Linked DNA regions of Homo sapiens. The protein of the gene in region 1 purifies or fractionates together with the protein of each later gene. This does not show direct contact. Each region holds a gene or a part of one and is shown on either strand. Other genes may lie near its edges.

Region 1 (7,846 bases):
TGTGTGCACGCACGTGCCAAGAACATAATTTATGCTACACACTGGAGGTTGAAGAGAGCATGGTTCTTCTTCTACCTTTGTCTCTTCTAATTGCCTAGCACAGTGATTTATACTCAACAAATACTTTCTGTGAATGAATCAGTGAATGAAATGTAGAAGAGACGTGCAGAAGGGCAGACAGTGGCCGAATCCTGGAGTCTTTGTATGCCAGCCCAAATAGTCTGGAATGTATTCAGTGTCTATTCAGAAACCACAGAAAATGTCTGAGCTAGAGAGTGGAGAGATCAGAAGTGAGGAAGGGAGACCCACTACTGAGTCTAGGATAAGACCTAGGTAGGAAGTGATACAGGCTCAAACAATTCTTGGGAGTTATAGACCTAAATTTTATAGTAGAGTTTCTTTAGTTTCTTTTAAAATTAAGTTTTAGACAGTAGGCCTGAACTCACGTAGTGTTTTGGTTTTAGTTTTCTTACTCACAGTAGAAAAGTTAGAAAATATGGAGAAACAAGACAACAATACTCAGAAATCCTATCATGCAGAGAAGATCACCATTAGTTACCATTTTGGTGTAAATCTTTTCACACATTTTCCTATGGCATATATATGCATTTAAAATGTGTAATGAATATATGAAATTTTATTTATATATTTTCTTGCTATATAATATAATCATATATATGTTTGCTATATGGGCTTTTGTGTTAGATAAAAAATACCAAATGTCTTAATATTTTATCTTGAGGACTTGGCCCAGAACAAGTATTCAATATATATTTATCAAATGATTAAATGAATGGCAATTATCCATTGTCATTTACCTTTATGTAGAGATTTTAATACTTTTGCTCATTTATAAAGCAAATAATTAAAGCTTACAGCTCTGTTTTTATATCTAATGCATTTCTTTTGTTTTAGATTATTCTAGAAGAAATATAAATTTAAAATAAACATGAAATCTCTGGGATTTCTTATTTATGCAAATAATACCCAGGCATCCTCTTAAACAGTGATTTATAAATATGTCAATGATTTATCTAGAATTAGTAATCTTTGGAACATCTGAACATTTTAATTATTTGATCAAAAGTATTATTCACTCAGAAAACAATTTCTTCCCTTCCCAGATTCTAAGGAGGAGAAAAGCAAAATAATGTTGGGAATGTTAATTCATGATAATCTGATCTGTGTTTTATTCATATAAAGTATCTCTTGGTTAGTACCCCATCGTGTATTCAGTGCCTGTACTTGGTACTCAGAATACTCAGGGTACTTATTGCCTAACCCAGTGCCTGGCACAAGGTGACACAATAAGTATTTTTCAAATGAATAAATAGGAATACAGTGAACATAGACATAGTAATATCTCTTCTAATGAAAGGATATTTTCATTCATTTTTCAAGTGATGTGACTATATAGTAAGTGTTAGGCACTTCTTATTTATCAATAATACTGGGTCCAGGTTGACATAGGAAAAATCCACACTTAATACAATACCTTATATTTAATGAATGTATTTTTTTTTTCCTTTAGAGTGATGACTTCACTCTGGGGAAGAGTGAGGCCACATCCCTGGGTTTTATTTATACTCCCTTTCCTTTGCCCAGAGGAAAGGAATTGTTAACACACAAATACAAGAGTACTGACAGCTCATGTCATGCTCAACTTTATATGTCTTAGAGTGTCCTGAACAGTAAGAATTCAAAAATGAGATAAATCAATGTCTTTTCCTAGGTCAAAGGCTGGTGTAAGAACTACACTTTTCCAGTAGATGGCAGTATTTTCATTCACCAGCTTAAGTTTTGTTTTTTTTTTTTGTTGTTTTGTTTTTAGTTTTACTATACCTTTAGTAAGCTGCAGGTGAAAATACATGTTAATGAAATTTCTGGTTTTTTCACTTTCTTTTAAAAAAAATTCACTCTTGGGAGCTTCCAAAAGCCCTAGAACGACATCTGCTTTGCCTACAATTTATAGCAAGGTATATACCGAAGTAGACCATACTCTCTAATCCTCCCTATTTCCTGATATAAGTTATTACTAAGAATTAGCTAATTCATAGTAATCTCTTGGAGAAAATCTATCAAGCCTTTCTGCCTCTACAGTAACAAAACAAAACAAAAATAAAACACTGACTTCAGGTTTCCTGTTTTCTAAATAGGGCAAAATATTCATTAAATTAAGCGGATACCTCACCTGTCTGGTTAATAATTAACTTTTAAAAAATCCACATTTTTGCAGCTCGACCTCGACAAGACCTTTCAAAAACCCTAACAGATGGTTAGGTGCTATCACGTGTCTGAAACGAACTATACGCTGCAGAAACTAAATTTGAGGAGGAAGGGAAGAAAGCATTTAAATTCCAGGGACATATGCCGGAGTTGGAAAACAAAAGTGTTAATTAGTGGAATAATATCTCAGATACTTTCTCTTCAAAACAGTGGATTAGCAGGAGTAGGAAAGGCTGGGTCTGAAACACGCGTTTCACTGCCTTCTCAGAATTACTCCCGTATAAACAAAGCCTCAAGTTGCTGGAGGGAGCAGTGTTTCCTCTGAAATCACGGAGATAGCCCAGATTTAGTCATCCAGTCCTTCTTGCGAATATTCAACCCATATCAGGAGGTACAGAGGTTTTTAGGGTTTAGGGTATTTTTAACCAAACCTTTACTTTCAAGACTAGCAGAGGCACTTTCGCAGCCCACCCTGCGCCACTCAGCCTCTGCGCTGCGCCCTCCTCGCCTCTCGCGCGGCAAGGACCTGAAGCCCCGGTGTGGCCGCGGCCCTGCGCACTCTCCAGATCCAGGTGAAGGTTGCGAGGCCTGGCGACGCCTAAGCGCTGACAGGTGGCCTCGCCCCGCCTCTTTGTCGCCCAGGGCGGCGCTCGCCTCCGCTCCAGGCCAGAAGCCGCAGCCCGCGCGCCAGGCACAGCTCCCCCGACCGGTCTCAGGAGTTCGGCCACCTCCCCGGGGAAGAGTGGGACTCAGCCAGGCGCCGGGCCGGCCTCTAGGAGCCTGCGCCAGAGCAAAGGGCATCCGGCACCCGACCCGGGCCAGGCCCTTGGACTAGGGCGGCACGGAACCTAGCGCCTGGGCAGGTCCAACCCTGCGCACTGCCCCTCAGCCTCGTGAACCCTTCGCCTCCACGACCCCCGGAACCCATCCCAGCAAGTGCGGCAGTGACCTCGGGTCTCACCGCCCGGGGGCCAAACACCTCGGCCACCCCGGGGCCCCAGAAGGGCCGAGGGTCAGCCGAGCGGACGAACCACATTCCCAAGGACAAGCAGCGGGTGGCAGCACCGCCCCCGCCCGAGCGCCCTCGGGTCCCTTTCTGCCGGGGCTCCAGTGGCTTGAGTGTCCCGACCCCTCCAGAACACGCAGGCGGCCGCAGGAAGAAATTCACCCGGACCCGTCCTCTTCCCCGAACTTCTTCGTTCCTCTCGGAGGTTCCTTCTACCCGACCCCTCTGCGCCACCAGCTCCTCCCACTCCGCTCCCCTCCCCTTTTTCTGGTCCCCACTTAGGAATCCGTCCCCCCGCCCTGCGCCGGGTCCGGGGTTCCTCCCCCCGGCTCCCCCCGCGTGCCGTCGCCGCCGCCCGGGTTCCTCTCCCCCCGCTCGGGCGCTCCCTGCCAAGCCCATGATGTAATGGTGTATGTTAATCAGTAGCATGTGGGGAGCTCCGGCTCGGGCGGCTCAGTCCTCCGCGAGCCGACACTGGAGGCAGCAGCAGCGGCGGCTGCAGCGGCCCCGACTCGAAGCACCGCACTCTCCCCGCGCCGCCCGCCCCGACGGCATGGCCCGCGGCCGGCGCTCCGGGCGCCCCCAACCCCGCTGAGAGCCGCCGCGGCCCCGGACCCGCGCAAGGGCCCCCGAGCCGCCGGGATGAGCCGCGCCGAGGTGAGCGCTCCCTCCCTACGGCCCTCGGCGGGGGACCCGCGGGTCACTGGGGGTCCCCTCCCCGGGGGCTTCCCCCTCCGCCCGAGAAGTTCTGGGAGCCGGAAGCAGCGTGTTGTTGGAAGCTAGCGGCTCCTTGAAGGCTGAGTCGCTGGGTTCTCCTCCCCGCCGGCGGCGGCCACGAGAACCGGGATGGGACTGGGGGAACCCCCGCAGCCGAACTTTCTTTGCTGTCGTTGGGGGGCGTGTGCCTGCGGCGCCGATCCGCATTCCCCGCGGGGCCGCCCCGCTGGCCGAAGGGAGCAGCGCTGCGGACCCCGGCCGTCCCCTCGCGGGGCGTGTGCCCAGCGCTGTGCCGCCCTCGGCCTGCGACGCGCGGGCGAGGCTCCGGGCCGGACAGACCAGCCCGTAGGCGGCGGCGGCAGGATGCCTGCCACACACGCGCGCACACACACACGCACACGCGCGCGCACAGTGACCGCTCCGGCCGGAGCAGGCCCAGGGAGACCTCCCGGGTGGGCTGGTGCGGCGCGGCGCGGGGGAGCCGGGGCTCTGGGTTGCGCCGCCGCCCGCTGGGCGCGGAGCTTTGGGTGGAGAGAGTTTATTTTTGTCTCGAGCTGCTGCCGCGGCTGCTCACGGCCTAAATCCAGAGGGGCGCCTGGCGGTGGAGATGCTGGCTGTTGCTGTAGATGGAGCTGCAGCCGCTCGGCTGCTTCTCTGGGAGGAGGAGGAGGAGTAAGAGGAGGAGGAAGGAACTCGGGCTGCCGCTGCCTCCGCCTCTGCTTTGCATTAGCTCCCACCCCCACCCCCGCGCCCCTTCGCAGCCGCATTGCAAGTTTTCTGCGCGGGGAAGATCTGTTGCTGGTGCTGGCGTTCTTAAGCACGGCGCCCGAGGCCACCCCAGGCGGGCCGTGAGGGGAGCACCAGCCGTTGGCAGCGGCAGCAACAGGAAGCCGCGGGGTCTCCTCCCGCACCTGGGAAGCAGGCTTCTCGCTGTTACCCGGTGGGGAATAGCCCATCTCCCACATCGGGTGCGGAGGGGGCGGAGGGGGCGGCTGGATTTCGGCGAACCCAACCTTCCGCGGGACGCCCCCTCCCCTGGCCCCAGCACCCTCTGATGCCCTCGTCCCCCCAGGGCGCGCTCCTCCGCTAGCCGAGGTCTCACTGCAGCTCTTTCTCTCCTTCCAGTGGTGATCGCCGCTCGGGAATGCGGGCGTGAAGGGTCCGAGTTGCCGCCCAGCGGGGAGGAGACCCCAGGACGCCGGAAATCACCATCCCAAAGCTGCAAGAAGGGGGGAGAAAGCATTCTTCATTCAGTTGTGTGCCTTGTGGGGGATTTTTAAAAAGTCGTTTTTTTTTTTAAAGAAACATTTCCGTGCTACTGTCTGTCATCGTCTCTGGGGAAATCAGCCAGAACCACCGGAACGTAACTGAAACCAGACAAGAGAGGCAGGAGCCCAGGCAGTACCTGCAGCGTCCGGGCACCAGAGCCACCTTGGAACAGGAACGCGTCTCCGGCCGCGGGGCTGCGGCTCCGCCAAACTTTGGGGCGGGCGGGGCGGGCTGGGGCGCCCAGGGGGCTCTGTAGACCGAGGGCGGCCCCCTAACCATGATGTTTCGCGACCAGGTCGGGGTGCTGGCGGGCTGGTTTAAGGGCTGGAACGAGTGCGAGCAGACTGTTGCGCTGCTGTCGCTGCTCAAGCGCGTGAGCCAGACCCAGGCCCGCTTCCTCCAGCTCTGCCTGGAGCACTCGCTGGCCGACTGCGCCGAGCTGCACGTCCTCGAACGCGAGGCCAACAGCCCCGGTAAGTGTGCGGCGGCCGCCGCCGCCGTCCCGCCTGCCCAACCCCCGCTCCTCCCTCCGCTTCTCTGCCTCGGGCCAGGCCGAGGCCAGTCCCTGCCAGCCGCGCCGGGACCTGGACGGCGTGGCCCCGAGGCCCTCGGAATCCACCCCCTCCGGGTGTCCCCCCACTACCGCCCCCCACCTACTTACCTCCGCCGGCCGCTTTGGGATTTTGCCCACTGTGAACTCCGTCAGCCCTTTCCGTGTGGTAGCTACGGTAGCATGAATGATTGATTTTTCTCTCATGCAGTTTCCTGGGAAATAAGTAAGTCAGGTCACGTAGAGTCTGGATTTTCTGGGTGTGTGTGTTTTTTCCTTCCTCCTCCTTCTTTTGGGCAACGTGGCTCGCTGGATTTCAGCAACACATGATAGATGCCCGGGACTGCCCTTCAGAAGCCAAGCTTGGATAAGGCTGTGTGAGGAGTACATGAAAATCCAATTTTATTATTCATTTTTCCCCACAGATATTCTGGTTTTAGAGCTTCGTCTTCAGAATAATATGCAGGTGACGCTAGAGACTAGTAAAATGACATTTGCAGCATATATATATATATATATATATATATATATATATATATATATATATATATAATGCGGTTAAGCTTACTGCTCGTGACATTATCCATATTGATACGGATCTTGTAGAAAAAAAGGGTCTTGGAGAAAGGACAGGCATGAAGTGGGTTACTTAATGCTTTTCGTTAGGAAACTTTACTGAATAGAACAGAATCGTTTCATATTACCCTGCTAGTATTTACAGACACCTCAACTAGTATGGAAAGTGAATATAGTCGAAAGGTCCAGCAGTTTCCTATTTGCTAGCGTGGGTGGTGACAGACTGAAATTATATCCTGGAGGGTAGGAGGAGGCTGGGGGATGGGGGGAAAGTCTGATGGTTGTGATTTTGGATAGGGGGAAATTCTTTAGTTCATGCTGCTGCAGGAGGGTGAACAGAGTCCCCAGTGTTTATGCAGAGAAAAGAATGCAGGGTCCTCTTCCAGCTGTTCCATGTTGGAGCTGCGAGCCTGCAAAGCTCAGCAGAGGTCTGGGCTGCCATTTGATGACAAGGTCCAGTCCAGGGCAGTGGGGCCTGGGAGACACTAAAGTGAGTGTGCCTTCAGAGCAGCAAGAAGCGAGCCGGCCTACTCATTCCTCCTCCCTAGTATGGTGTGCACGATGGTGAAAACACTAGAATGGGATGCTTCCATATATAGAATCATAGGGTGGAAGTGACCGCTGGAAATCTTCACAGTTCTTTTCCTGACCAGACAGGACTGCACCCGAAAGATCCTGCATGGCCAAGTATGGAGGGCCACATTGAGGGAGATTCCATTGAGCCCGAGCCTCCCAGCTCACACCAGGACTCACTGGGGTGGCGATGACAGGGCCCCCTTTGGTTGAGCTCCACGTTTATAAATAGCTGGAGGGCCAGCCTCCTTCACTGGGGTGTGGAAGCATAATTGGGTAACTGATGATCCACCCTCTTTGCTTCCTTCCTTAATTTCAGCGGGAAGCCTGGTTTACCTGCTCGGTTTTACTTTCTCAGGTTTGACAAACAAGGTTATATAAACTTTTGCATTTTATAGATTGCAGAGGATTTACGCAGAGTCATTTAGGTTGAATGCTTGATTTCAGTGCTGGTAGGGACTGTTCAAACTCATCTTTAGGTTATTCAAATGTTGGAGCAGCACTTTTTCCCTTTGAGTAATGGAGATGACTTTTCCCAATAGAGCAGCCACCAGGTTAGTAAGTAAAACAGTTAAATGTTAAAATAAGGTGGCCTAATTTTAAAAATCTCATAATTTAAAAAATTGAACTGTGAATTTTTTGAAGTCACTTGGCATTTTTTTTCCCTTAAGACATGTTTGGCCATACTTATTTGTATAAGATACCCACCTGTTCATGCTGCTAAATGATGTAGATATACAAAATATAGAACCATTGTGTAAGATAGGAACTGGTCTCCAGTTTCTGGATTAATCCTTCGCCTAGACGTTTTGCCTGCATGGAAATCTTTGCAGTTGTTTTGTTGTGTGGCCAGGACAGAAATTTCTTAGGAGGTCATGTGATGATTTGGTTTACTTTCGGAGTGTGGGGATCATAAAGAGCATCAGGAG
Region 2 (3,640 bases), on another chromosome or scaffold:
CAGAGCTAGCCGGCTGTGTCTTCTCCCCGTTTCTTTCACTGGTGAATAACCTTTCGTTTGAACCAGCCTTGATTGTTCTCTCCATGTTCCACTGTGGCTCCCCATGGACACTGCTAGGTGGAATCTCTGAGAAAACAGGCACTTCGCAGTCGGCGCATCTTTCTCTGCCAGCTTAGGGATTGCCGTCAAGGTGGAGGAAGGGTATTTTGGCCATGTTCGGAGTCGTTGTTTTTACTCACTCTTCTTGGGATAGCTTTCCCACCCTGCCCTCTGCTCCTCTGTCCCAACCCTCTTCCAGCCTGGTTTTTTTACTGCTTGAATTATGTATCCAAAATAAAAAGGAAAAGAAAGGTGCAGTTGGGGCGGGTTGTTGGGGGCGAGGAGAATAGCCCTTCTGGTTCTTCAGACCACATAATGGCCAGAGCATGAGCCTCACAGATCCCTGAGCAGACCTGCATACTAGCACTTTCCACAACCAGCTGGCCCTGGCTGTGAGAGTCAGATCTGTCCCCAAGGCTCCAGGTCAGAACTTGGACCCAGGTGCCTTCTGAGGCACCGCCAAGGACACATCCCAGCGCCTTAGGCACCTGTAGGCTAGAATGACACCTTCCAGGCCAGCCCCAGAGGCCCTCAGGGCTCCCCCTCCAAGCCGGGAGGGCAGGCAGGCACAGGCCCCGCTCACTACCTCAGCACCCAGTGCAGCCCCAGGCTCCCGGACGTGCTCGGCCCGGTGGCCTCTTGTGTGACAGGCCCTCTGCCATGTCTGTCCGCAGAGCCGGGTGGGGACCCTCCGTGTGGGTCCTCCTCTGTCCCTTTGCAGCTCGCATTCGCCAGAGCGGAGCGCAGCCCTTGTTTCCTTCTTTCCTCTTCAGCTCTGACTTAAAAACACACTATGTTCCAAATCGTTGTGGGATCGGAAACTAGAACTGCTTGTTTCCAGGAGAGACCACCTTTTCATATTTTTTTTAAAAGGAATTTGTGCTTCAAAAGAAACTCCAAAAAATAAATTTATTGTTAGTCTAGCATATGCTCATTGAAATTGACTTATGTTTTATTTTAAAAAATCATGTAGGATCTGGTACATGGGGCGGGCAAAAGGGTATCATCAGCTTAAGAAGTAAAGAAGTGAGCCTTCCATTTGTGTGGGTGATAACATCTTTTTCCTAGATCGTACCTCAAAATTCAGGCTCTCCATGAAAACAAAGATAATCTGAATAAAAATTGTGTGTTGGGAAATGTATCAAGTGACCTTCAGTTAAGAAAAGCACAGGCTGTTTATTAGCACAACTTGCTTCATTAAATAATTCGTGGCTTTTTCTGCCACTGGGGTTCTTTTCGTTTTGAATTCAGCTTGTGTTTGGTTCCTCGGTCTTGTACCCCTTCAGTTCGCCGGCGACGTAATGGTGATACCCTTTGTTTTTTGTATCATACCTTTTGTGAATTGTGACAACCATCCCGTAATCATTGTGGCCTCAGCAGAAGTTTTGAACAATCTTTGCAGCCACTGTTGGGGTGTGTACCAGCAGCCTGGAAGTGACCAGCAGAGCTGACAAAAGCACCCCCTGCTCTGCCCACCTCCGCAGAGTCCTGTCCTCATCAGAAACGGTATCGCGGATGCTCCTCAGGTAGGCGTAGGCAGACTTCATTGTGTGTTAGCAGTGACAGTGATGTCTGTACCTATCTGTGAGTGAGACCCATTCATGACACACTAGAAATGTGTACATTCTTTTGTTTTCCATCACGGGTATAGGTCTTCTGCCATGAAAGAGAACTATCAAGGAAATTCCTGAAAACAAGATTTGTAAATTCGATTTGACCCTCCCAAATTCAGGGCTGCTCTTTGCAGTGGTCCCTGGCCCAGCAGGTGGCCGGCGTGGCTCCTGTTGGCTCATGCCAGTGTTGTGCTGGACCCTCGAGTATGTGACTGTCACCCTTGTCCAAGACTGGTTTTTAACAGTCTTGATTTGTCATTTTGATGCTTTGAATACTATAAGGAAAATGCCACGAATACCATATAAATACCACACCAATCTGTTGAACATATCTGTGTTTTCTGACATGGGACCTGCAGAATAGTATTTCTTTTAAATCCTGCAACTTTATTATCTAGTAGAATTCCAAGTAGGTCTGCTTAGACACATATTCAGTGAAGATTGTATTGTGTGTGATATTATCCTATCTTTAATAAAGTCCTACTACTGAAAAACAGGGATTTGCAATGAAAATCATAGCTAAATAGGCAGGTTTAGAAAGTTCAAAATATTGGAAGTGCTAGAAGGCTGCAACTTGTAAAATTGTACTCCCCAAGTTCAGTAGGATAGTAGAGAAGTCGTGCTAAGTTGATTTCATTGAAATGTCACGTCTCACATCCTGTGGTCCAAAGGTACTAGTTTGTTTTGTGGAATAATTTTCTGTTCACTTGCTGATAAGAAATTTAGCAGTCAGAAGTAATTTTTAATTAATAACCTTTCTTTTTAAAAGTTGCTTTATGGTTTACAAGTAATACTGATGCAAAAAGGATTTGTTAACCTAAATTAAGTAGCACGCACTTTGTTTACATGCTTCAGTATATTGTGGGGTTGGTCCCTTCTCACGAACCCAGGACCTGTGCTTGGGGAACATTTTGCCATCATGCTGTTCTCTTGTACCAAGGATCAGTGAAAGTGTTTTATCTTTTTTATGTAGTTTGTATTGACTGGATTTTATAACTGTAAGAAAACAGAAACAGAGTGTTGTATTTTGATCTGAAATTTGTGTATGCTAAAGTAATTTTGTTTTATGTATTGGAAGTTCACTTAAAAACTTGAAATATTTTCTAGAAGGGTACCACACAAAAGGAATCATCTTTAAGCTGTTTAATTAACCTAATAAAATAATTTGATGGGGAAGGCATTCTAATTGTTTCTGATTTTTAGAGTGGTTCCTGCTAAATCATCATTATCAATACAGCTTGATTTGATTTAAGAATGAAACGTTGTCGTTTCTGTCATTTACACGGTGTGGGTGTCAGCTCCTAGACCGTGGCTTGTGATGTTAGATCCGTCCCTTAGCAGCCACACCCCAGTCACTGCCTGAGCCTCTTCCATCGCTGACTGCCTGAGTCTCTCCATCGCTGACTGCCTGAGTCTCTCCATGGCTGACTGCCTGAGTCTTTCCATGGCTGACTGCCTGAGCCTCTCCATCGCCGTCAGCATAAGTCTCCTTGCTGTCTTCCCTGAAAAATGGTTTCAAATTGGCTTTCCTCAGAAGACAGAGAGAAAATAGATTTCGGAGGACTAGAGGACCTTGATATTAAGGGCTTGGTAATATGAGGCAGAATTCCATCTGCAGAAAGCAGATTTCTCTAGTTCCCTCTTACTGCGCTGTCCAGAGACAATAAACCTACAAAGATTGGTAGTACTTGAAAAAGATAATTCAAATACAGATCTCCACTGAAGGCAAGGGGTAAAGAGCTTAGCAACTCTACCATAAGGTCCAGGTTAGGTAAGGACAGGAAAGTGCACGGGCCGTCTGCAGACTCCCTCCTGAAATCACATGAAAAGAGGCAGTATATTCATCTTTGGTGGCACGGCATGGCATAACATAGGTGTGGCAAGTGGGTTTAAATTTTTTTCTACCTTTCATAACGAGGTCATATGGT

What was found.
Region 2: the proteins of SAMD4A (region 1) and GAN purify together in Homo sapiens (affinity purification with mass spectrometry; 2 studies listed by BioGRID and IntAct, with this or other methods). This does not show direct contact.

Annotation. Positions count from the first base shown.
Region 1 is NC_000014.9:54,562,422-54,570,267, forward strand, and holds the start of SAMD4A (protein Smaug homolog 1), read left to right. Parts: upstream 1-4,706; 5' UTR 4,707-4,917; intron 4,918-5,074; 5' UTR 5,075-5,495; coding exon 5,496-5,691; intron 5,692-7,846. UniProt on the Homo sapiens protein: Acts as a translational repressor of SRE-containing messengers.
Region 2 is NC_000016.10:81,387,918-81,391,557, forward strand, and holds the end of GAN (gigaxonin), read left to right. Parts: 3' UTR 1-2,892; downstream 2,893-3,640. UniProt on the Homo sapiens protein: Probable cytoskeletal component that directly or indirectly plays an important role in neurofilament architecture.